Linked DNA regions of Homo sapiens: region 2 is linked to region 1. Evidence: fine-mapped expression QTL. A gene starts in region 1. The other region holds a variant in brackets. All regions are shown on one strand. Distances are between the middles of the regions.

Region 1 (10,782 bases):
AAGCCCTGTGGGCCTGAGGGGGTACTGCTCAGCTGGTCTGGAGGTCTCTGTTCTCAAGAGGGTGCCCCATAGGCCTAGGAGACTCCTGAGGGGGCACTGGTGTGGGTGTCTCCAAGGGGCCCAGTGAGCCTGGTTCTGGGAGGTATGTAAAAACTGTTGCTCCTGGAAGGACCTGCTGTTGCCAAGGGGAAGAGGTGGTGCTGGCCTAGTCTCTTCTCCCTTTCCAACCCCTGTTCCAGCCTGCCCTTAACAGATCTGCAAGTGAAGAGAGGTGTTTGTAGTCTCTGCCCTGCACAGTGATGCCTAGGTGGGTAGGTCTGGAGCCCAGCCTTGTCTGGTGATGAAATCCCATGGGATTTTCCCTTGACACTGAGACCAGGGCCTCCAAGGGCTGGGAGAACACTCAATCCTCAGGGAGGTTACCAGCCTCCTGAGCACCAGTCCTCCTTGCTCCAAGTCAGCGTTAATGATTCATTCCCATGATACTACCTCTCCCACCCCAGCTCAGCTGTACAGCTACCCTTACCCTAACAGCACCCTACTCCCTAAAGTGGTCCTGAGCGGCCAAAGCTTTCTACCTTTATCTACCTATCAGTAGGAGTACCCGCTGAAGAGTTGTACTCATGGGGACATTCAGCATCTCACCCTTAGTACTAGAGGAACAAAGGGAAGCAGTGGGGTCACAGCACTTCTTACAGCTGGGAGCCAAGGATCCCACTTGGATCTGCCAACCCCCAGGTTTGTGGGTGGTACTGTGCCTAAACTTGATGCCTGCAACCTGCATGCTCCCCTCCACACCCTGTCACGGCTGTCCCCTGGGCCATGGGCCAAGCCAAACCCCAGGAAAGGACCCAGACAGGCCAGAATCTCCCTAGCCAACCAAGATTATGCGATCCAGCAGGAGCAAACTGACACCTGGTGATCCAGATTCTGCCTCAGGATGTCTTTGTAAAACTCCTTTACACCTAGGAAACCATTTCCTAGTTTTAAAACTAGAAGATTTCACCTGGAAATTCAGATTTTTCAAGACTTTCCTGTTCTCGTGTTCACAAGCAGCAGGTGATGAGGGTGTAGGACCCTGCAGATGGAACCCCAGCCAGTCTGAGAAGCAAAGGCTGCAGGCCCTGGGCCAGTTTCCCTGCCCTGTGGTGATCATTCCCATCGCTAGAGCTGAAGGCTTCTCCCACCCTGGCCCCATGCACATTGGAAGGTTTCAGTCAGGAGTAGATTCAGCAGCAAACCAGTGGAAACGCAGCTTAGGTGAAAGTGGACAGATGCTGAGAGCATAAGTTCAGCATACTGCAGGCTTCAGGGCAGCGTCTCCAGGACCCAGTGCCATTGCCTGTTTTGCCCTAGCCATCTTCCCCTTCCATCCCATTGTCCAGGTCCTTCACACAGCCCCTCTCCCCCAACCCTCCAGTGGGTGACTTGGGTGCAGGTAACACAGGCTGAAAGGCAGTTTCAAAGAAGGGGCTTGGCCTTGGCCAGAAGCCACTCCTGGGGGAGCATCTGCAGAATCAGAGGAGTGGCGCCTGGGCCCCTCCGCAGGCAAGTGCCACACCATGCGCTCACGGGGCTGGCAGTTTCCGTGGTGACGGCCGGAAGTCGCTGACCGGCAGAGTTCCGTTTCCTCCCGCCCTCCGAGGCACGCTGAGCTGTGATTGGATGGGAAGCTGACCCCCGCCTCCATCCCCTTTTCCAGATAGTGGGGGAAGCGCAGAGGCTGCAGTGCGTGTCCGCTGGAACTTGAGGCCCACGCCAATAGCGGCCCGATTCCGCCCCCACGTCGCGTTCCCCAAGTGTCCACCCCGACAGGTCTTCCCCTACACCACTGTAACCCTCCACAGTGCTTACCACTCTCTGGCACAATACATGTTTTGTTAGTTTACCTCAATCAGAATCTCCAGGAACGGGGATCTTTGGGTTTGCGATGGGACAGGGAAGGTACTCGACCTCGCACCCTCTGGGTAACGCATCTAGTCTCACTCAGGGTCTTGCCGCGATCACCCTGCCTTGTCTGTGACCCATAGGGTCAAAGGCAGGCCGGGCGGGTGGCGGCAGCAGCGGAGGTGACCACCCGCGCCGCGCTCTGCACATATATACAACTTAAGATGAAGTGACCGCGAGCAAAAGCGGCCCACGTCTGCCCCACTCAAAGATGGCGACTAACTCCGCTTCCTGCCCGGCCCCGCGAAAGTCGCCGGAAGTGACCTGCAAGGCCGCCGAAGCGTCATCTCCATGAACGGAAATGCCCGAGTCCAGCCGAAGGAGGCCGAACCCCAAACTCCATCGCTGAGCAACGCGGGTTTGCGGCGGCTGCGCAGGCGCACAACGCAGGCCGGGCGGGAAGAGCCAAAGCGGGCAGGCGGCGGAAATATCCGAAGCGGCGGGGCGCCCGAGGCCGTTGCCGACCTCCGCGCTAAAGCCGCTGCTGCCGCGGAAGACGATCCTCCAGTACCCGCCCGCCGTCACCGCAGCTGCCGTGTCCTCCTCCCACCCCTAGCCGCACCCCCTCGCGGAGGGATCAGCTGAGCGGCCAAACGGCACGGTCGGGGGAGCCCCGAGTCCGCAGCTGCAGCGGGGCCTGAGACCAGAGTTGGCGAGGGCAAGGAAGGAGCGGCCCCGGGCAGTGGGGGCGGGGCCGGGCGGGCCCGAGAACAGCCGAATTTGGCCGAGCGCTGCCGAGCGAGTCCGAGGCGCTGGGCCAGGCCGGAGCCGGACTACGGGAGCCGAGGCGGGCCGCGCGGTGGGCGCGGAGAGGAGCGGAGCGGCGCGGCAGGCCGGGCGGGTGGCGGCAGCAGCGGAGGAGGCCGCAGCTGCGGGTCCGAGGAGCGGAGGCGACGCGGGCGGCGGCGGGGGGCCGGGTGGCCGGGGTCCCGGGCCCCGCGGCGGCGGCAGCGGCGGCGGCGGCGGCAGGATGATCAAGCTGTTCTCGCTGAAGCAGCAGAAGAAGGAGGAGGAGTCGGCGGGCGGCACCAAGGGCAGCAGCAAGAAGGCGTCGGCGGCGCAGCTGCGGATCCAGAAGGGTAGGGGGTCAGGGGATGGGGTTGGAGCCGGAGGTCGGAGGTCAGGGCCTGAGGCAGGGTGATGTGGGAGTCAGGAAGGGGTAATGCGGTTGCTGAGGGTCAGAGGTGAAGGGCCCCGAGCGTGGGGGGGGTCGGAGGTCAAGTCTTGAGGGTTGGGATCATGCAGTCACGGGGAGGGGGTCAGAGATAGGGGCCCGGTATGTGGTGGTTTAGGATATTAGGAAGGCCTGGTGTCTGCTACTAGGGACTCGGAATCTCAGAGTCAGGCAGTGGAGTGGAGGAACTGACGACTCGAGAGTCTGGGGGTTAGACGGGAACTTGGGTTTGGGGTGACAGGCGGAGAAGAGAGGGATAGTAGAGGCCAGGGGTTGGGGATATGAGTGGAAGAGGATTTAGTTTATTATGCTGGGGTCTCTGGGAATCTCTGAGTCAAACGGGTGAAGTAGGTTGGAGGACCAGGGACTCATGGGCCTGCCTGAGTCACAGCAATTTGGGGTTTGGGGTGACAGGTGGAGGAGGGAAGGTTAATGAGTACCAGGGATTGGAGACAGGGGTGAGGGGAAATTTAGGCTATTGTGCTGTGAACCTCAGAGTCAGAGGGGGTGGGGTAGGGTGGCGGGGGTTGGGGACTTGAGAGTGTGGGGGTCACATGGAAAGCTGGGTCTGAGAGACAGAGAAGAGGAAGGACAGTGAGGACTGAGGGTTGGTGGGGGTGGGCAGGATCTTTGAGTTTGGGTGAACAGGTAGATACTGTAGAGTGGAGGTCATGGATGGGGAGCCTGGGGTTTAGGGCGGTCAGAGGATGTTTGGGAGTGGGGGCATTTGGGAGCTGTGGATACAGAAAAGTTGGGGGTCACCCTGGGCCAGGAGTTGGGACACGCATACACAGCTGAACATGCATGTTTGGGGTATGCTGTGTATCCACAAGAGCCAAGCTGGGGAGCAGGGAGAGGGCTGGAGGTGTGGAGCACAGCCCAGGAGAGGCGCCTGGGGGTCCAGGAGGAGACGATGGGGGCTCTGCTAACAAACACCCGCCCTAAGTGTCCTGCTGGCTCCCTCTCTCTCTCTCTTCCCCTCCCTCTTTCTGTTCCCGACTCTCTGCTACCCAAACCCAGACATAAACGAGCTGAACCTGCCCAAGACGTGTGATATCAGCTTCTCAGATCCAGACGACCTCCTCAACTTCAAGCTGGTCATCTGTCCTGATGAGGTGAGGGTGCATATGGCTGAATTCCCAGGAGCAAACCAAGGGTGTCCCCACTGAGAGGAGGGAGACATGTTCTGCCCATCGGGCCCCACAGGATGGAACCCTAAAATTTTCTTCTCCCCCTTTTCCTCCCAGGGCTTCTACAAGAGTGGGAAGTTTGTGTTCAGTTTTAAGGTGAGTCCCAGGCGGGCAGGGATGGCTCCCTGGACAGAGGAGGCAGCAGCTGAGGCCCTTCCAGGCACCTACCCATCTCTCTTTTCTTTTCCTGGAGCCAGGTGGGCCAGGGTTACCCGCATGATCCCCCCAAGGTGAAGTGTGAGACAATGGTCTATCACCCCAACATTGACCTCGAGGGCAACGTCTGCCTCAACATCCTCAGGTGAGGACACTGGCCCTCTAATGCCCTCCTCAGCGCTGCCTGCCAGGCCTCCCTCATGGTCTTGTGGGCACTACATCAGACTCTGTCCCTTCCCACCCCTTTGTTGTCTGTGGTTTCTTGATTTCCCAGTCATCTTCCTCATGGCCTGACCTTGGTTTTCTCCTTGGCCTGTCCTGCTCCACACCCTCCCTCCCAGCCTCTCACATGCTCACTCTCCTATGCCCTGGATCTGACCTGCCCAACACCAGAGGGGCCTGTGGCAGTCTCCCACTCACCAAGCCCTGACCCTGATGCTCTCTGTCCACAGAGAGGACTGGAAGCCAGTCCTTACGATAAACTCCATAATTTATGGCCTGCAGTATCTCTTCTTGGTGAGTAGGAATAGGTGGTTGGGTCTGGGGAGATTGGCCTTCTGTCCCTCTGGCCTGTTGACCCCCCCTACCTGTACTGGCCACAGGAGCCCAACCCCGAGGACCCACTGAACAAGGAGGCCGCAGAGGTCCTGCAGAACAACCGGCGGCTGTTTGAGCAGAACGTGCAGCGCTCCATGCGGGGTGGCTACATCGGCTCCACCTACTTTGAGCGCTGCCTGAAATAGGGTTGGCGCATACCCACCCCCGCCACGGCCACAAGCCCTGGCATCCCCTGCAAATATTTATTGGGGGCCATGGGTAGGGGTTTGGGGGGCGGCCGGTGGGGGAATCCCCTGCCTTGGCCTTGCCTCCCCTTCCTGCCACGTGCCCCTAGTTATTTTTTTTTTTTTAACACCATGTGATTAAGGTCGGCGCTGCCTCCCCCGACCCACTCAGCGATGGGAAATGAATTGGCTTGTCTAGCCCCCCTGCTGGGTGCTTGTTCAGCCCCCACTCTGGGCTGTGGAGTGGGTGGGCAACGGGCCTGGGTAGCTGGGCCCAGGCAACCCACCCCTCCACCTCTGGAGGTCCCACCAGGCTATTAAAGGGGAATGTTACTGCATGGCCTCTGCTTCTTACTTCTATGGGGTGGGAGGGGCAGCTGAGGTCCATTAGGGCCTGCAAAGCTGGGGTGGTGGAAGGTGTGGTCACAGGTGGCATTGGAGCACCCTACAACAGGCTGCCCAGTGCCTGGGGCAGCTCTAAAGTTGGTGGGGATACCATGACTGTGCCTGGGGTTGGTTGGGATGAAGCCTACTCTAGGATGAGAAGCGTAGGCAGGATCCAGTGACCTGTGGCTTCCTGGCCAAGAGGCCAGCAAAGTGGAAGAAACAAGCCATCTCTAGCTTTGCCCCTTTCTTGTGTGGGTGGGCCCACCGAGGAGGAGGAGCCTTCTGAGGCTCCTTCTATCTGAGGCCTCAGGCAGAAGTCAAGGTCTCACGAATAAGCTGGGTCCTCAAGTGGAGGTTGGGTGGAAAGCGCCCACCCCGGTACTGGCTTGGGTCACTCGGGCGGGACTCAAAACATGAAACACTCGGACGCGCAGAGGAAACGGGAGCTGTTGCGCATGCGCTCGGACGCTGGCCCGTTCCGGGGCACGGGCGCACGCGCGCTCCTGGAGTTTCCCAACCTTCCGGGTGCGGGCGGGGCATGTTACGTCACGTCGTTTAATCCGGAAACGGCGGCGGCGGCGACAGGACCGAGGGGCCTTAGTTGGTGGGCAAGTCGGGGATCCCAGAAAGAGAAGCGTGACCCGGAAGCGGAAACGGGTGTCCGTCCCAGCTCCGGTGAGTGGCCCCTGCTGGACCGTGGATCCCGGGCGGGCGTGCGGGCGGCAGCGTACGAGGCCTTCTACTCGCCCGGGTGTCCGGTGCCTCGCTTCTCCCTGGGACCCTGTCGTCAACATCGAGGTCTCCAACACCACCTTGCTTTGGTGCCGGGCCCACTGACTGTCCTCGGTGTATAGTGCGACCGAATCTCCATCATCCCGTCCTCAGTGTACAGGATGCCCCAGCGCCCCCAACCGTCTCCCTCAGCATTCAGGGTCCCCAAATCCTAATGCCTTGTCCTGAGCTTCACAGCCCCACATTCACCTGTTCTTGGTACTTAGCGTTTCCGCCCATCCTGTCCTCCTCTATCAGAACCCCCACAATTGCTCTGTCCTCGGTGCCCACAGTCTCCAAAACACCAGTGCACCGGCCCGCGTCATCCCCCGCTCTCAGTCGTATCAAGGACTCCAGGGCCTCACCCATAGTTCTGGAGAGGGAAGCTGAACTTGCAAGCCATAACTTCTTTTGGGGCATGGCGATGAAGGAGGGGCTCGGGCCAGCACTTGGATAATTTTCAGGTCTACCTGTCCCCCTTTATGTGTCCCCGGGACAATCCCAGTGTTCTCAGCTGCTCCCTTTTGGCTCCTCATTCCTGCCTCCAGTCTCCGTTAGCCCCTTCCCATTTGGCAAGGCTCCCGTGACCCTGTTCTGCTTCTTGCCCTCCTGGGCCCCATGCCCTACAACTGGGCCTCACTCACATCTGTCTCAGGCCTGCCAGTGAGCTTCTACCATCATGGACCTATTGTTCGGGCGCCGGAAGACGCCAGAGGAGCTACTGCGGCAGAACCAGAGGGCCCTGAACCGTGCCATGCGGGAGCTGGACCGCGAGCGACAGAAACTAGAGACCCAGGAGAAGAAAATCATTGCAGACATTAAGAAGATGGCCAAGCAAGGCCAGATGGTGAGTGTGGGTGGTCGGGCAGGTTGCTGTCAATCAGGCACGGCTCTAACAGCAGTGAACAAGAGAGACCAGACACCAAACACAGGTGCTTTCAGCAAAACGAGTGGAGTGAAAGGTCAGCAGGGCTTCCCTAGTTTGAGGGTCTGGAAGGCTGCCTCCAAGGAACTGGTATGAGATCCAAGGCTTGAGTGATGAGAGTGAGCCTACAGATCTGGGCAGGGAATGTGTTAAGCAGACAGAGCAGCAAATGTTAAAAAAGAGCCTCAAAAAAATGGGAGATGACAGGTGAGCTTCAAGAGTTGGGCATGGACCAGACAATTCAGAACTCTGGGCCAAAGTGGGAGCTAAGTTGGAAGGTTAGGGATTACAGGGCCGGGCGCAGTAGCTCAGAGACCTGTAATCCCAGCACTTTGGGAGGCAGAGGTGGTTGGATCACCTGAGGTCAGGACTTCGAGACCAGCCTGACCAACACAGAGTAACCCCGTCTCTACTGAAAATAAAAAAAACTAGCCAGGCATGGTGGCGCACGCCTGTAATCCCAGCTACTCAGCAGGGCTGAGGCAGGACAATCTCTTGAACCCAGGAGGCGGAGGTTACAGTGAGCCAAGATCATGCCACTGCACTCCAGCCTGGGTGACAGAGCGAGACTCTGTCTCAAAAAAAAAAAAAAAAACCAGTTAACTATAAGGATAAGCTGGCCCGGCATGATGGCTCAAGCCTGTAATCCCAGCACTTTGGGAGGCTGAGGTGGGTGGATCACCTGAGGTCAGGATTTCGAGACCAGCCTGGCCAACATGGCAAAACCCCACTCTACCAAAAATTAGCCGGGCATGGTGGTGCATACTTGTTATCCCAGCTATTCGAGAGGCTGAGGCAGAAGAATCGCTTGAGGCCGGGAGGCACAGTTTGCAGTGAGCCAAGATTGTGCCACTGCACTCCAGCCTAGGCAACAAAGCAAGACTCCAACTCAAAAAAAAAAAAAAGGTAAGGGTAAGCTATAAGCTATGGCCAAGAGGCTGGTAAGAGACAGCCGGAACCAGTAGGGAGAGCATGAAGAAGGAACACAGCCTTTGATGGGTGAGAGGGTTTTGGCCTGAACAGGTAGGCAGAGAAGATACCATTTCTTGGGATGGGCAAGAAAGATGTTTGGAGAGGAAATCAAAAGCTGAGCCTCAGATAGGTCTGTATGTGATTCTGGATAGTTCGAGGTATGGGTTTGTATCAGGTGAAGGAAGAGACAGATTCTTTGTCTAGGCTGGGAATAAAAATTGAGGAATGGCTGTTGTAAGTCAAAAGAATGACTGAAAACATGGAGGGAAAAGGAACCCTCAGGAGTGAGCCTGGGGCCTTTCTTTTACCATTTACAGATCAAGAGAAGTGAGGAGGACCTTACAAAGGAGCCCAGGGAGTTGGTGGCCCAAGAGGCAGAGGAGGGTTAGGTCAGAAGGAGGGAGGGACCAGTGACCATTGGGTTAGCCAGAGTCTCTGGAAACTTCAAGTGGAATTGCAAATTGGGCTGGTGGGGAGGGACAACCAACTAATGGGGTGTCAAGAAGTGTAGGATAATCTCATTCCTGTGTCCTTGATACCCTTGTCTACTCTGCAGGATGCTGTTCGCATCATGGCAAAAGACTTGGTGCGCACCCGGCGCTATGTGCGCAAGTTTGTATTGATGCGGGCCAACATCCAGGCTGTGTCCCTCAAGATCCAGACACTCAAGTCCAACAACTCGATGGCACAAGCCATGAAGGGTGTCACCAAGGCCATGGGCACCATGAACAGACAGGTGCGCTTTTCCCAATCCCCCTTCCCACTCCCACGACCCATGGGGATCACACTCACACTCCTGTCACTTCCAGCTGAAGTTGCCCCAGATCCAGAAGATCATGATGGAGTTTGAGCGGCAGGCAGAGATCATGGATATGAAGGAGGAGATGATGAATGATGCCATTGATGATGCCATGGGTGATGAGGAAGATGAAGAGGAGAGGTATGGGGAAACTGGATGGGAGGGTGGAGATGTTTGCCTGGCCCTCACGGAGTGCATAGCCCTCACTGAGTTCTCTCTCTTCCCTAGTGATGCTGTGGTGTCCCAGGTTCTGGATGAGCTGGGACTTAGCCTAACAGATGAGCTGTCGAGTGAGTGCTCCAAATCCTGGACCCCATTTCCCACCCAAGGCCCAGCCACAGCTCCAAGCCCTCCCTTTCCCTGCATTACTCCCCTCCGCTGCCTGACCCCACCTGCTCAAACCCCCACTTTCTCTGCAGACCTCCCCTCAACTGGGGGCTCGCTTAGTGTGGCTGCTGGTGGGAAAAAAGCAGAGGCCGCAGCCTCAGCCCTAGCTGATGCTGATGCAGACCTGGAGGAACGGCTTAAGAACCTGCGGAGGGACTGAGTGCCCCTGCCACTCCGAGATAACCAGTGGATGCCCAGGATCTTTTACCACAACCCCTCTGTAATAAAAGAGATTTGACACTAGTCTCCAGGCCCATGTGACTTTTGGCCTGATGTGGGACCAGACTGGGGTCCCTGGGAGGATGGGCATCACTAAGGCAAGAGGCACTTGGTACTAAGCTAAGGGTGGGGGTTTGGGGCAGGGGTGAACAAGCAAAGTCCACCTGGGATTTTCAGGAGCTGGGAGCTTCAGGTGAGCTGTGGGCCCTTCTCCATCACCTCTCCCAAGATACTGGACTGCCCAAACACCCTGGTAGGATCTTGAGAGTCCAGGCCTCATCTGCCAGGCTGTAGTGTCCAACACTGTTTGGTCCAGTGATGGTTTAATGACAACACTCAAGGACAGTCCAGACCAACCAATAGAGGCAAGGGGGTGGCCTTGGGATTCACACAGGCTCGACTGTAGAGTAACTAAATCATAACACAGAGATGAATGATAATGTTAAGTGGACTCAGCAAAGGGAGACAGGGAAAAAAACCACATCTGGAAGGTCTCAGTTCACTGTGGGACCTTCTGAAGATGAGAAACAGCTACAGCACCAAAATTTAGGAAGCATTCAGTAGAGTGGCTGTGCTACACCTGGGGCTAACCCTGCCTACACAGGGATGTAGGTCACACCTACCCAGTATCCCACAGGGTACCCAACAAGCCTCTAGTGTGTACATCCTTTGCCCTGGGTGACCCTCCCCATACCCAGAAAGGGCAAGGAGGCAGTCTTCCCCACTCCCTAGGCATCCATACACATGGGCTTCGATAGGTGGGGGACAAGACCCCCCTCCCTTGTGCCACCAGTGCTTGATAAGGCTGACTAGTAGATACAGTCAATAAACCAGGCCCCAGGACCACAGTCCCCCAACCAGCCAACGCCTGAGGAACTGGTGAAGTTTTTATTAAATCCACAGAAGTAAAAACCATATCGTGAGGAACTGGGGGATGGGGCCACCAGGGAGTGGGAGTCAGGCCACCAGGGGAGTGGGGATGGGGTGACAGGACAGAGAACAGAGCCAGGCTGGGCTGGCCATGGGGGCTCCAGCCTCAGGGGCCATCACCAGGGCCACCAGACAGCTCCTGG
Region 2 (12,695 bases), 58 kb after region 1:
CAAGTGATCTGAACACGTTGGCCTCCCAAAGTGCTGAGATTACAGGTGTGAGCTACTGTGCCCAGCCAATTGGCTGTTTTTTTGTTTGTTTGTTTGTTTGTTTGTTTTTAACAATTAAACAGTCTCCCCATTGTATTTGCTTGTAGGTCTCTGTTCCCCTTTCATCTGCATTTCTTGTTAAATTGGAAACTTTAACTAGAGGTGTTGTTAGATTCAGTTTTTTTCTTTTTCTTTTGAGACAGGGTCTCACTCTGTCACCCAGGCTGGAGTGCAGTGGTGTAAGCTCGGCTCACTACAGCCTCCCCCTCCTGGGTTCAAGCGATTCTTCCACCTCAGCCTCCCGAGTAGCTGGGACTACAGGTGTGCGCCACCACGCCTGGCTAATTTTTGCATTTTTTGGTAGAGATAGGGTTTCACCATGTTGGCTAGGCTGGTCTCAAACTCCTGATCTTTCAGGTGATCCACCCCCCTCAGCCTCCCAAAGTGTTGGGATAACAGGTGTGAGCCACCACGCCCAGCCCCCTATATCTTATTAATCCATGTGTCCATACGTCAATACAACCATACAAACATTCACCAACCCACCCATCTACCTACTCACCTACTTCCTCACTCATTCATTCATTCATCCACCCACCCATCTATCCATCCTTACACCTATCCATCTTTCTCTTTTTCTTTTTTTTTTTTTTTAAGACAGAGTCTCACTCTGTCGCCCAGGCTGGAGTGCAGTGGCGCTATCTCGGCTCACTGCAAGCTCCGCCTCCCAGGTTCACGCCATTCTCCTGCCTCAGCCTCCCGAGTAGCTGGGACTACAGGCGCCCGCTACCACGCCCAGCTAATTTTTTGTATTTTCAGTAGAGACGGGTTTCACCGTGTTAGCCAGGATGGTCTTGATCTCCTGACCTCGTGATCCGCCCACCTCGGCCTCCCTAAGTCCTGGGATTACAGGCGTGACGATCCTCACCCAGCCACCTATCCATCTTTCTACCCCCCTGCCTCTGCATGTCACTGTCCAGCCATCCATCTACTCACTCACTACTCTAACTGTCCACCCATCCATCTACTCACTCACTACTCTAACTGTCCAGCCATCCATCTACTCACTCACTACTCTAACTGTCCACCCATCCATCTACTCACTCACTACTCTAACTGTCCACCCATCCATCTACTCACTCACTACTCTAACTGTCCACCCATCCATCTACTCACTCACTACTCTAACTGTTCACCCATCCATCTTCTCACTCACTACTCTGTCCACACATCCATCTTCTCACTCACTACTCTGTCCACCCATCCATCTACTCACTCACTACTCTAACTGTCCACCCATCCATCCACTCACTCACTACTCTAACTGTTCACCCATCCATCTTCTCACTCACTACTGTAACTGTTCACCCATCCATCTACTCACTCACTACTCTGTTCACCCATCCATCTTCTCACTCACTACTCTAACTGTCCACACATCCATCTTCTCACTCACTACTCTGTCCACCCATCCATCTACTCACTCACTACTCTAACTGTCCACCCATCCATCCACTCACTCACTACTCTAACTGTTCACCCATCCATCTTCTCACTCACTACTCTAACTGTTCACCCATCCATCTACTCACTCACTACTCTGTCACCCATCCATCTACTCACTCACTACTCTAACTGTCCACCCATCCATCTACTCACTCACTACTCTAACTGTTCACCCATCCATCTACTCACTCACTACTCTGTCCACCCACCCATCTACTCACTCACTACTCTAACTGTCCATCCATTCATCTTTCCATCCATCCACCATATCCATCCACCTGCCCACCCATCTGCTTAGCTGGGCATTCATTTATCGTAATCAAGAGTGATTTGAGCTTCGAGTCAGTGACAAGCCAAAATAAAAATTAAAAATGTGGCTGGGCACAGAGGCTCATGCCTGTAATCACAGCACTTTGGAGGCCGAGGCGGGTGGATCACCTGAAAGGTCAGGAGTTCAAGACCAGCCTGGCCAACATGGTGAAACCCCGTCTGTACTTAAAAAAGTACAAAAATTAGCCAGCTGTGGTGGCGGGTGCTTGTAATCCCAGCAACTCAGAAAGCTGAGGCAGGAGAATCGCTTGAACCCGGGAGGGAGAGGTTGCAGTGAGCGGAGATTGCACCACTGCACTCCAGCCTGGGCAACAGAGCGAGACTCCGTCTCAAAAATAAAAATAAAAAATTTAATATTTACAGCCCTTATTTAGCATTGCTCACTTTATAACAGGCACGGAGCTTTCCCGGCATCCTGGAGACAGGATTTGAACCCAGGCCTGCCTATGCTCTTCTAGTGAGAGCAGTCCTGGCTGGGCCAAGGACACAAAGATGAACTCAGTATTGTCCTGTATTTCAGGGTGTGGGGGTGGGTGAGCACAGGTGCTAAAAGCAGCTTCTTACAACAATTTGGAAGCATGACCTGAAACCCCCTCTCCTGTCATCTCCCAGGAGCCACCTGTGTTCTGGCCCCCAAGTTCTCTACTTCCTGCTTCTGGGATGACTGTCGGCAGCATGGCGTGACAGTGATCCTGTATGTGGGCGAGCTCCTGCGGTACTTGTGTAACATTCCCCAGGTGAGGCTCTAAGATTAGGGCTCCATGGTGAACACCCAAGTATGAAATCCCAGGTAAAGGTCTCAGGTAAAGATTCAGGTACTGAACTCAAGTCCCTCAGATAATACACCTCATGCAAGAACCCCAGATAATGAGTTTCAGACAAGGCTTCCAATAATGGTTTCTTTGATAGCTGTGCTACCTTGAGCCTCAGTGTCCTCATTTGGAAAACAGGGATAATAGCCCCTACCCCTATCATGAGAATTTCCATTAAAAATTAATTAATTAAAATTAAATTTCCATTAAATTAAAGTTCTAGGTAACTACTCTTAGGTGAGACCCCAGATGAGGCCTCCAGTCACCTCTGGTAACGTCCCCCAGGCAAAGCTCTGAGGTCGCCCCTGCAGGTAACCCTCTATTTAAGACTCCAGTAACTACTCTCATGTAAGTAACCCAGGTAGATCCCTTAGGTAGAGGTCCCCCATCACCTTCCAGGTAACTCCCAAGGTAAGGACCCAGGATAACACCCCCTCTAGGTAAAGGTTCCAAGGCATGCCCCAAGAGCACCTCCTCCTCACCCTTCTGGGGACATTCCTGTAGCAACCAGAGGACCGGACACATACAGTCCGCCTGGCAATGGGCAATGGACTACGGGCTGATGTGTGGGAGACCTTCCAGCAGCGCTTCGGTCCTATTCGGATCTGGGAAGTCTACGGCTCCACAGAAGGCAACATGGGCTTAGTCAACTATGTGGGGCGCTGCGGGGCCCTGGGCAAGATGAGCTGCCTCCTCCGAGTGAGTGTGCGGGTACCTGGTGTGCAGCTGCCCTGAGGCTGAGCCCACAGGACCTATGTCAACACTCCACCCTCCACCCCAGATGCTGTCCCCCTTTGAGCTGGTGCAGTTCGACATGGAGGCGGCGGAGCCTGTGAGGGACAATCAGGGCTTCTGCATCCCTGTAGGGCTAGGTATGGGGGTTGAGGAGCCTTTCCTGGGTGGCAGGGGTGGCGACCCTCAGTCTTCTGCTTGGCTGGAACGAGCTGCTCAAAAGCTTGACGTTGGTGCTCACTAGAGGGGTCTGCAGCCTTCATCTGGACCCTGAGCCAGTGGCCTGCCTTACCACCATCTGGGGCCTCCGCCTCAGCTTCTCGGCTCTGTCCAGCTCCCCTGCCTTGATCTCTTGCTCTGATTTACTGGGTCTCTGGGTGTCCATCTGATTTGTTCTCTTGAGCTTTCTGTGGAAGACGGCATTCCAGCCATTGGTCCCTTGTCCTGTACCTTCTGTTAGTGTCTTCTCCCAGGGCCTTGCAAGGTCCTGGTCATATCTATTCTCACTGCCATTTGTCTGTCCGTCTTCCATCCCTTGTTATCCTTTTCCTGTTTCTCATGGGCTCCCCATACCGCCTTCTCTATACTTCTCTCTCATTTTCTGTGTCGCTTGTCGCAGTCTCTCAAGGTCTCTGAATGTCTCTCTCATCTCTGGATCTCCCTGTCTGTGTCTTTGGGTCTGTCCTTGGCAGGGTGCTGGGTGATGAAGAGTCCACCGTTGTTGAAAACCTCCAGCAGGGGGCTTGGCTGGTGGGCTCCAGGGGTTCTTGTTCCTGCTCCTACCCCAGGGGAGCCGGGGCTGCTGCTGACCAAGGTGGTAAGCCAGCAACCCTTCGTGGGCTACCGCGGCCCCCGAGAGCTGTCGGAACGGAAGCTGGTGCGCAACGTGCGGCAATCGGGCGACGTTTACTACAACACCGGGGACGTACTGGCCATGGACCGCGAAGGCTTCCTCTACTTCCGCGACCGCCTCGGGGACACCTTCCGGTCCGAGGCAGGGTTTCTCGGGGCGGGGCTGGCGCGGGGCCACGGACGCTTTCAGATCCTAGAGGGAGTCAGGCTGAAGAGGCGGGACTTTCCTGTCGTAAGAGGGCGGAACTTGGAGTCAGGACTTCTCACGCGAAGGCGGGGCTTCTCGATTTTCGAGGGGGCGGGGCTGACTGGGCCTCCTGATCCCCAAAAGGGGCGGGGCGGGGGCAAGAGGCGGGGCCTCTCCTTCCCGGGGGCGTGGTCACAAGCGCCGGCTCCCTCCTTGCAGATGGAAGGGCGAGAACGTGTCCACGCACGAGGTGGAGGGCGTGTTGTCGCAGGTGGACTTCTTGCAACAGGTTAACGTGTATGGCGTGTGCGTGCCAGGTGCGGAGGGTTCTCATTTTAAACTTCCAACAGCTTTGTGGGTGGAGGGGTCGTTATTCTGATTTTACAGGTGGGGAAGTGCTAGGGCCCAGAGAGGTTTAGAGACTTGCTGGCTCTCACAGCCAGTGAGCAGAGCTGGGCGAGGCTGGAGGGTCAGCTATGGGCCCTCGAGATGGGTCAGCCGAGAGTGACCAGACTGCTCTCTAGGTTGTGAGGGTAAGGTGGGCATGGCTGCTGTGCAGCTAGCCCCCGGCCAGACTTTCGACGGGGAGAAGTTGTACCAGCACGTTCGCGCTTGGCTCCCTGCCTACGCTACCCCCCATTTCATCCGCATCCAGGTGAGCCCAGGGTGGCCTGGTGGGTGGGTGGAAGATCATAGCCAGGGGGCGGGTGGATGTCACAGTGATTGGACCATGGTCACTGCCCTGCAGGACGCCATGGAGGTCACCAGCACGTTCAAACTGATGAAGACCCGGTTGGTGCGTGAGGGCTTCAATGTGGGGATCGTGGTTGACCCTCTGTTTGTACTGGACAACCGGGCCCAGTCCTTCCGGCCCCTGACGGCAGAAATGTACCAGGCTGTGTGTGAGGGAACCTGGAGGCTCTGATCACCTGGCCAACCCACTGGGGTAGGGATCAAAGCCAGCCACCCCCACCCCAACACACTCGGTGTCCCTTTCATCCTGGGCCTGTGTGAATCCCAGCCTGGCCATACCCTCAACCTCAGTGGGCTGGAAATGACAGTGGGCCCTGTAGCAGTGGCAGAATAAACTCAGATGTGTTCACAGAAGTCTGTATGTCTGCGTGGATGAAGGAGCAATGGAGGAGTGCAGGGGCTAGTGCCCTGAAGACCTTATTTTAGGGTCTTCCCTGTCTCCCAGCAAAGAACCTCAGCCATCCCTGTGGGATGACCCTGTCTGTGTAACGCCAAGGGTGTGGGAGGAGCTGGCCAGCCTCGCAGCTGCTCTGAGGTAGAGAGATGAGAACTCTGATTCTCATCTGTGGGTCTTTGGTGGGCCACTGAGGCGGTGGCTGGGCCAGTGGATGTGGATAACTCCCCTGTGAAGTGCTGTGGATACACAATCTGACAAAGCCTGGAGGTTGCTGGACTGAGGCTAGAAGGGCAAGCAGGAGGTAACTGGGGGAGGAGTGTCCCTGGCACTGTGAACGGCACGTGTAGAGGCCCTGGGGCAAGCTTTGTAGGTGGGGAGCAGTGGGAGCAGAGGCCTCTGGAAAATGGGAGTCTGCACAGTCTCAGGAGTTGGACCTGCTACCCGAAGCCTAGTGGAGATGTAGGTGGGGGTGTGTGGGTGCTGAGCCTCTGCCTCCAAGGCTTCTCGGCCCAGTAGGAACTGAAGGTGAGGCTACAGACACTGGAACAGTTGTGGTGGTGCCAGGCCGGTGGTCCATGGGTTAACTTTGGGAGCACAGCTGGGGTGATGATGGTGAGAAAAGGAACCCCACAGCAGTAAACGCCATATGCAAAGGGCTGTCCGTGGGCAGTGCTGCAGACTGCGACCCTGCCCATCCCTTCTCGTGTGCATAGTAAACACACCCCACAGCAATGCTTAAGCACACCTGAGAATGGCCCTGTGTGGCAGACGCACCTGAGTGTGGTTCAGAGTTCCCAGCTAAGGAATCTCAGAGATTCATTCCTTATTTTTGAGGAACATCTGGGTCCTTAGCCCTGTCCCATGGAATGCTGGTGGTATAAGGGATCCTGGCCTTTTGCTTTCAGTTAAATGAAGGTTGCCAGGGGGAGGATGTTAAGTGAAAATGCCATATAAACTGCATGCTTTTTGCAAGTGGTTCTCCTGCCCAGCCCACCGCCCCTGGACTCTCCCCGGTATGTAAGCCCCCAGTAAAACCCTACATCTTGTTTGCTGGCTCTTAGTCTCTTCTTCGGCCTCTTGAACCTGGTGCCGTCCCCATTGGAGTCAGTAGGGGTTTGGCACAATACTGTGCTCTCCCGTGCCTCAGCCTCCTCATCAGGCTATGGGCCACTTTGAGACAGAACTAGCCTTCGAAGGGAGCAGTGCAGGCAGCACCCCACGTGGGCTGTGAGGCAGCTGGGCTTCACAGAGTTCCTGGTAGCATTCGAGGCTCTTCCTGTCAGCCCTGCAGCCTGGAGCTGAGACAGTATCCTTTTCAGTTGGGGTCCCACTATGAGCATCTGTTTGTCATTGGTGGTGGCCGTGCACTGTAATTCTCTTCTGCGAAGTGATAGTTG[T/C]TGTGACTTGCTATTTCTGTGCCCTGTGTGGCCAGTGGAGCCCCACATGTTCCCTGAAGAGCCCTGGCCCTTTCATACAACTGGACTTGGATCCTCCCACGCACACAGTAGGTTGTCCAGTTCCTTCATACTCCTCCAGCCTGGGTGACAGAGTGAGACTCCGTCTCAAAAAAAAAAAAAAAAAAAAAAAAGAACCCTCACGTCCTTGTTAGTATAGTGGGAAAAAAAGAAGAATAACCCTTGTGGACTCACCTGGGGCCAGGCTAGAGCTGATACTTTTTTTTTTTTTGAGACAGAGTCTCGCTCTATCACCGAGGCTGTGGTGCAATGGTGCAATCTCAGCTCACTGCAAGCTCCGCCTCCCGGGTTCATGCCACTCTCCTGCCTCAGCCTCCTGAGTAGCTGGGACTACAGGTGCCCGCCACCACGCCCGGCTTTCTTTTTGTATTTTTAGTAGAGAGGGGGTTTCACCGTGTTAGCCAGGATGGTCTAGATCTCCTGACCTCATGATCCTCCCACCTCGGCCTCCCAGAGTGCTGGGATTACAGGTGTGAGCCACTGTGCCTGGCCTAGAGCTGATATCTTCACCACATCTCATGGGATGAGTTGTGTTGTGTTGCTCCCACCATAGTTGAGGAAGCCCCAGCCAAGAGAGGTGCTTTCCCCATGAGTTACTTGCCAAGCCCATTGTTGCAGGTGTTGGATCAGAGGGTGTGGATGTTGTAGAAATATCTCACTGTGGATCCTCAGCTTTACAAGTTCACCAGCACTTTATACAAATCCGTGCCTCCCTAAGCCCTAGCTAGCTTGGGGCATTCATAGTTTTTGCTATTACATTTGCAAGGATTAAAAAATAATATTTGATTAGCTGGGTGTGGTGGTATGCACCTGTAATCCCAGCTACTCAGGAGGCTGAAGCAGGAGAATCGCTTGAACTTGGGAGGTGGAGGTTGTAGTGAGCCAAGATTGCACCACTGCACTCCACTTTAGGCAACAGAGCTGAGAGTCTGTCTCAAAATAATAATAATAATTTTTGAGGCTGGGTGCAGTGGCTGACGCCTGTAATCCCAGCACTTTGGGAAGCCGAGGTGAGTGGATCATGAGGTCAGGAGTTTGAGACCAGCCTGGCCAACATAGTGAAACCCCGTCTCTACTAAAAATACAAAAAATTAGCCAGGTGTGGTGGTGCATGCCTGTAATCCCAGCTACTCAGGAGGCTGAGGCAGGAGAATCACTTGAACTCAGAAGGTAAAAGTTGCAGTGAGCTGAGATGGCGCCATTGCACTGCAGCCTGGGTGACAGGGCAAGACTCCGTCTCAGAAAAAATAAATAGGCGGGCGCGGTGGCTCAGGCCTGAAATCCCAGCACTTTGGGAGGCCAAGGTGGGTGGATCATGAGGTCAAGAGATCGAGACCAGCCTGGCCAACATGGTGAAACCCCGTCTCTACTAAAAATACAAAAAATTAGCTGGGTGTGGTGGCGGATGCCTGTAGTCCCAGCTACTCGGGAGGGTGAGGCAGGAGAATCTCTTGAGCTGGGGAGGCAGAGGTTGCAGTGAGCTGAGATTGCACCACTACACTCCAGCCTGGCGACAGAGCGAGACTCCGTCTCAAAAAATAAAATAAAAATAAATAAATAAATAAATTTAAATAATAATATAATTTTTGGCTGGGTGCAGTGGCTCATGCTTGTAATCCTAGCACTTTGGGAGGCCAGGGTCGGAGGACCACTTCACCCTAGGAGGTCAAGATCAGCCTGGGCAACATAGTGAGACCACGTCTCTAGAAAAAAAATTAAAAGTAAAAAAATTAGCCAGGAGTGGTATTGTGCACCTTTAGTCCTAGCTACTGGGCAGGCTGAGGCAGGAGGATGGCTTAAGCCCAGGAGTTTGAGGTAACAGTGAGCTATCATTGTGCTGCTGCACTCCATCCAGCCTGGGCAACAGAGGCAGGACCCTGTCTCTAAAATAAATAAAAATTTTAAAACTTTTTCTTATTCCCCCACTAGACTACAGATCTATGAAGTGTTTTTTATTCAATATATCACACACGTTATTCCTTTTCTCTTTTACTTTCCAAACAATTTTATTTAAAAAAAACCTGCAGTACAGTATTAAAAAGCAATACATTCAGCAGGAGTGACAACCAACAGAAACAAAGGGAGGAGGGTACGGAATACCAGGGACCCTACCTCAACTGATCCTCAGGGCTGGAGGCCAGGGGCAGACTGGGAGGAGCACGGGTGGTGGGGAAGGGAGAAAAGGGCACCCACCAAAATGAACAGGCAGAACAAAACATTTATATAGGAAATGTCTAGTTGAACTTGAGGATCTTGGGGAGACGGAAAAGCACCTTTTTTTTTTTTTTCCAAAAATATCCTGGACTATCAGGGAGGGTTGGCCTCCTGGGGCGAAATGAGCAGGCAGAGCCCTACCCTACACTCTACTATTGTGGAGGGGATGTGCTGGGGGCTGGTGACACACATTTTATTCTTCTTTTTTTTTTTTTTTTTTTTTGAGATGGAGTCTCACTCTTGTTGCCTAGGCTGGAGTGCAGTGGCACTATCTTGGCTCACTGCAAACTCCGCCTCCCGGAACCAAGTGATTCTCCTGCCTCAGCCTCCTGAGTAGCTGGGATTACAGGCACACACTACCACACCTGACTAATTTTTGTATTTTTAGTAGAGACGGGGTTTCACCATCTTGACCAGGCTGGTCTTGAACTCTTGACCTCGTGATCCACCCACGTCGGCCTCCCAAAGTGCTGGGGTTACAGGTGTGAGCCACTGCACCCTTTTTTTTTTTTTTTTTTGAGACGTAGTCTCACTCTGTCACCCAGGCTGGAGTACAGTTGCACAATCTGGGCTCACTGCAACCTCTGCCTCCCAGGTTCAAGTGATGCTCCTGTCTCAGCCTCCTGAGTAGGTGGGATTACAGGCATGTGCCACCAGGCTCAGCTAATTTTTGCATTTTTTTGGTAGAGATGGGGTTTCACTATGTTGGCCAGGCTGGTCTCGAACTCCTGACCTCAGGTGATCTGCCCGCCTTGGCCTCCCAACGTGCTGGGATGACAGGCGTGAGCCACCACACCCAGCGTATTCTTAATTTCATTCTATAAGTCTTTCTGTTTCTCCTGTCCCAAGCTGCTGTAATTAGCATAGGCTTGTAATATATATATATATATATATATATATATATATATATATTTTTTTTTTTTTTTTTTTTTTCTTTTTCTTTCTCTCTTTTTTTTTTTTTTTTTTTTTTTTTGAGAAGGAGTCTCTCTCTGTTGTCCAAGCTGGAGTGCAGTGGCTTGATCTCAGTTCACCGCAACCTCTGCCTCCCAAGTTGAAGCGATTCCCCCACCTCAGCCTCCTGAGTAGCTGGGATTATAGGTGTATGCCGCCACTCCTGGCTAATTTTTGTATTTTTAGTAGAGATGGAGTTTCACCATGTTGGCCGGGCTGGTCTCGAACCCCTGACCTCAGGTGATCCACCTGCCTCGGCCTCCCAAAGTGCTGGGATTACAGGTGTGAGCCACTGCACCTGGCGGAATTCCTACTCTTTACTTTTATTTCAAAACCTTCTTAGCTAGTCATGTGTCAGAACTCTTTCCCATTTATGTCTTTTCCCCCCAAAATTGCTGGTTAGGTATAGAAGTAAAAGGTGGTGGAGGGCACCATGCTTTCTTTATATTCTTATGGGTGGCTGCTAGTGTGGGGACTGGTTTTTTTGTTTTTTTTTTTCTTTTTTGAGATAGGGTCTCGCTCTGTCACCCAGGCTGGAGTGCAGTGGCACCATCATCGCTCACTGCACCCTTGACCTCCTAGGCTCAAGTGATCCCCCCCAGTAGCTGGGGCTGCAGGCATGCACCATCATGCCTTGCTAATTAAAAAAAACATATTTTCTTTTGTAGAGTTGGGATCTTACTGTGTTACCCAGGCTGGTCTCGAACTCCTGGGCTTAAGCGATCGTCTTGCTTCAGCTTCCCAAAGTGCTGGGATTATAGGAGTGATTCACTGTCCTAGGAAGGATTGTTTCTTTCTTTCTTTCTTCCTTTTTTTTTTTTTTTTTTTTTTTTTTTGAGATGGAGTCTAGCTCTGTCTCCCAGGCTGGAGTGCAGTGGCGCAATCTCGGCTCACTGCAAGCTCCGCCTCCCAGGTTCACGCCATTCTCCTGCCTCAGCCTCCTGAGTAGCTGGGACTACAGGCGCCCGCCACCACGCCTGGCTAATTTTTTTTTTTTTGTATTTTTTAGTACAGACGAGGTTTCACCGTGTTACCCAGGATGGTCTCGATCTCTTGACCTCGTGATCCGCCCCCCCCTTAGCCTCCCAGAGTGCTGGGATTACAGGCGTGAGCCACTGTGCCCGGCCCCAGGAAGGATTCTTGAAGTATCGGTGGATGCCCTCATGGGAGGACCAGTGACTCTCACGAAAAGCAGCCTTTGTTGTCCAAGTGAATAAATAATGCCTTTCATGTAAGCATGTGAGAAATACAGGCAGATGCTGTAGCGATGGCTCAGATGGTGACGTTTCTTACAGACTTTACCAAGTCCACGGTTTCTTCTCATCCTGCCTTTTCCTGGATGCCCGTGTTAAGTTCCCCGCTCCCACCCCTAATGACAGATGACTTCTCCCACCGACTTTCCGTATCCGACATTATGCTCTCGGGTTTGATGGTTCAAGATGACTTTTTCTCTATGAATGAATAAGTCAATGATGATTAACAGTGGTGGTAATGAGAGGTACCTCCTCACACAGATCCCTCTCTGCCTTGCTAGAACTTGCCTTACCCTGGTGAGGGTGCTCTGAAAAGGCATGGACGTGGCTGCTGGTCCTGCCTCTGGACCCACAGTGACTAGGGTCTCTCTGTTTTCTGACATGTCCAGGGAGGGCTGGGCAGAGCCTCATGGGTTAGAGGTGTGGGTCACGTCTCTGCTGTCCATGCTGGGAGTGAGTCATTGACAAGAGGGCCATGGAGAGGGCCTTTTCGGAAGGGCGGTTGGAAGGAACCTTCTGGAAGGGTGGCGTGGTGATCGTAGCCTGAGAGGCTGGATATGAGGAAATAGCAGGTGTGGCAGGAGGGGGATTCTTAGGGCCCATCTGGTGCTGGGGAGTAGGACTGACAGACCTGGTCCAGACAGGCCAGCAGGAAGTCAAGACTGAAGAGAGGGTTCCAGAGACCTGGGGAGGGGTCAAAAAGTGAGATAAGTGGGGCACCCACAGAAGGAGAGATGGTCTTGGAGCTCACAAGCAGCGGCGGGCACCAATGTCTGTGCAGTCATGTTCAGACACTGTTGGTGTTGCCGAGACCACGGAAAACACAAGCCCTGTGTGAAAGTGAACTGACCCCCACACCATGCCCAGTGCCCTTTGGCATCTGCTGTAGTAGGAGGAGGCTGCAGCCTGTGCAAACCCCAGGAAGGGGCTCGATTCTTGCAGATGGCACCAACTACAGAGGAATGGAGCTGGTGATGGACACTGGTAGGCAGGACTTCTCAAGTATGGTTCCAGGTGATAAACGGGGCTGTGTGGATGAACATCTATTAATGTAGACATTATCTATTTTAAGGTGACTTGAAATACTGTTTATTTTATTATTGCAAGATGTGGAAATTTACTTTAAAATAAATGTATGGGGCCGGGAGTGGTGGCTCACGCCTGTAATCCCAACACTTTGGTAAGGTGAGGCAG

Which allele goes with the higher level. Alleles are on the strand shown, and positions count from the first base shown. SD is a standard deviation of normalised expression in the study named.
For the expression in monocytes after interferon gamma of the gene that starts at base 6,194 in region 1, allele T in region 2 goes with a higher level than allele C (large effect, 1.5 SD a copy in Fairfax 2014).

Evidence for each region.
Region 2: its variant is fine-mapped to the expression of CHMP2A in monocytes after interferon gamma (Fairfax 2014, PIP 0.95).

What each region holds. Positions count from the first base shown.
Region 1 is chr19:58,550,517-58,561,298 of GRCh38, reverse strand. It overlaps CHMP2A (charged multivesicular body protein 2A), which reads left to right and starts at 6,194. Exons shown (of 6, transcript NM_014453.4): 1 at 6,194-6,311; 2 at 7,063-7,254; 3 at 8,861-9,040; 4 at 9,114-9,244; 5 at 9,332-9,393; 6 at 9,523-9,733. The coding sequence starts at 7,087. The coding sequence ends at 9,650. It overlaps TRIM28 (tripartite motif containing 28), which reads right to left. Exons shown (of 17, transcript NM_005762.3): 17 at 10,584-10,782. The coding sequence ends at 10,746. It overlaps UBE2M (ubiquitin conjugating enzyme E2 M), which reads left to right and starts at 2,688. Exons shown (of 6, transcript NM_003969.4): 1 at 2,688-3,026; 2 at 4,142-4,236; 3 at 4,369-4,407; 4 at 4,509-4,612; 5 at 4,920-4,983; 6 at 5,070-5,587. The coding sequence starts at 2,918. The coding sequence ends at 5,210. MZF1-AS1 (MZF1 antisense RNA 1) reads right to left here and starts at 2,113. Exons shown (of 6, transcript NR_027334.2): 1 at 1,890-2,113. RefSeq lists enhancers at 1,332-1,928, 2,074-2,333, 4,888-5,571, 5,966-6,035, 6,106-6,195 and a silencer at 2,464-2,763.
Region 2 is chr19:58,491,203-58,503,897 of GRCh38, reverse strand. It overlaps SLC27A5 (solute carrier family 27 member 5), which reads left to right. Exons shown (of 10, transcript NM_012254.3): 4 at 2,488-2,612; 5 at 3,192-3,386; 6 at 3,469-3,559; 7 at 4,208-4,406; 8 at 4,678-4,775; 9 at 4,983-5,113; 10 at 5,207-5,565. The coding sequence ends at 5,383. It overlaps LOC105372485 (a long non-coding RNA gene), which reads right to left and starts at 4,387. Exons shown (of 2, transcript XR_001754024.2): 1 at 3,170-4,387. RefSeq lists enhancers at 4,010-4,219, 4,280-4,339. The variant T/C (reference allele first, on the strand shown) is at 7,006.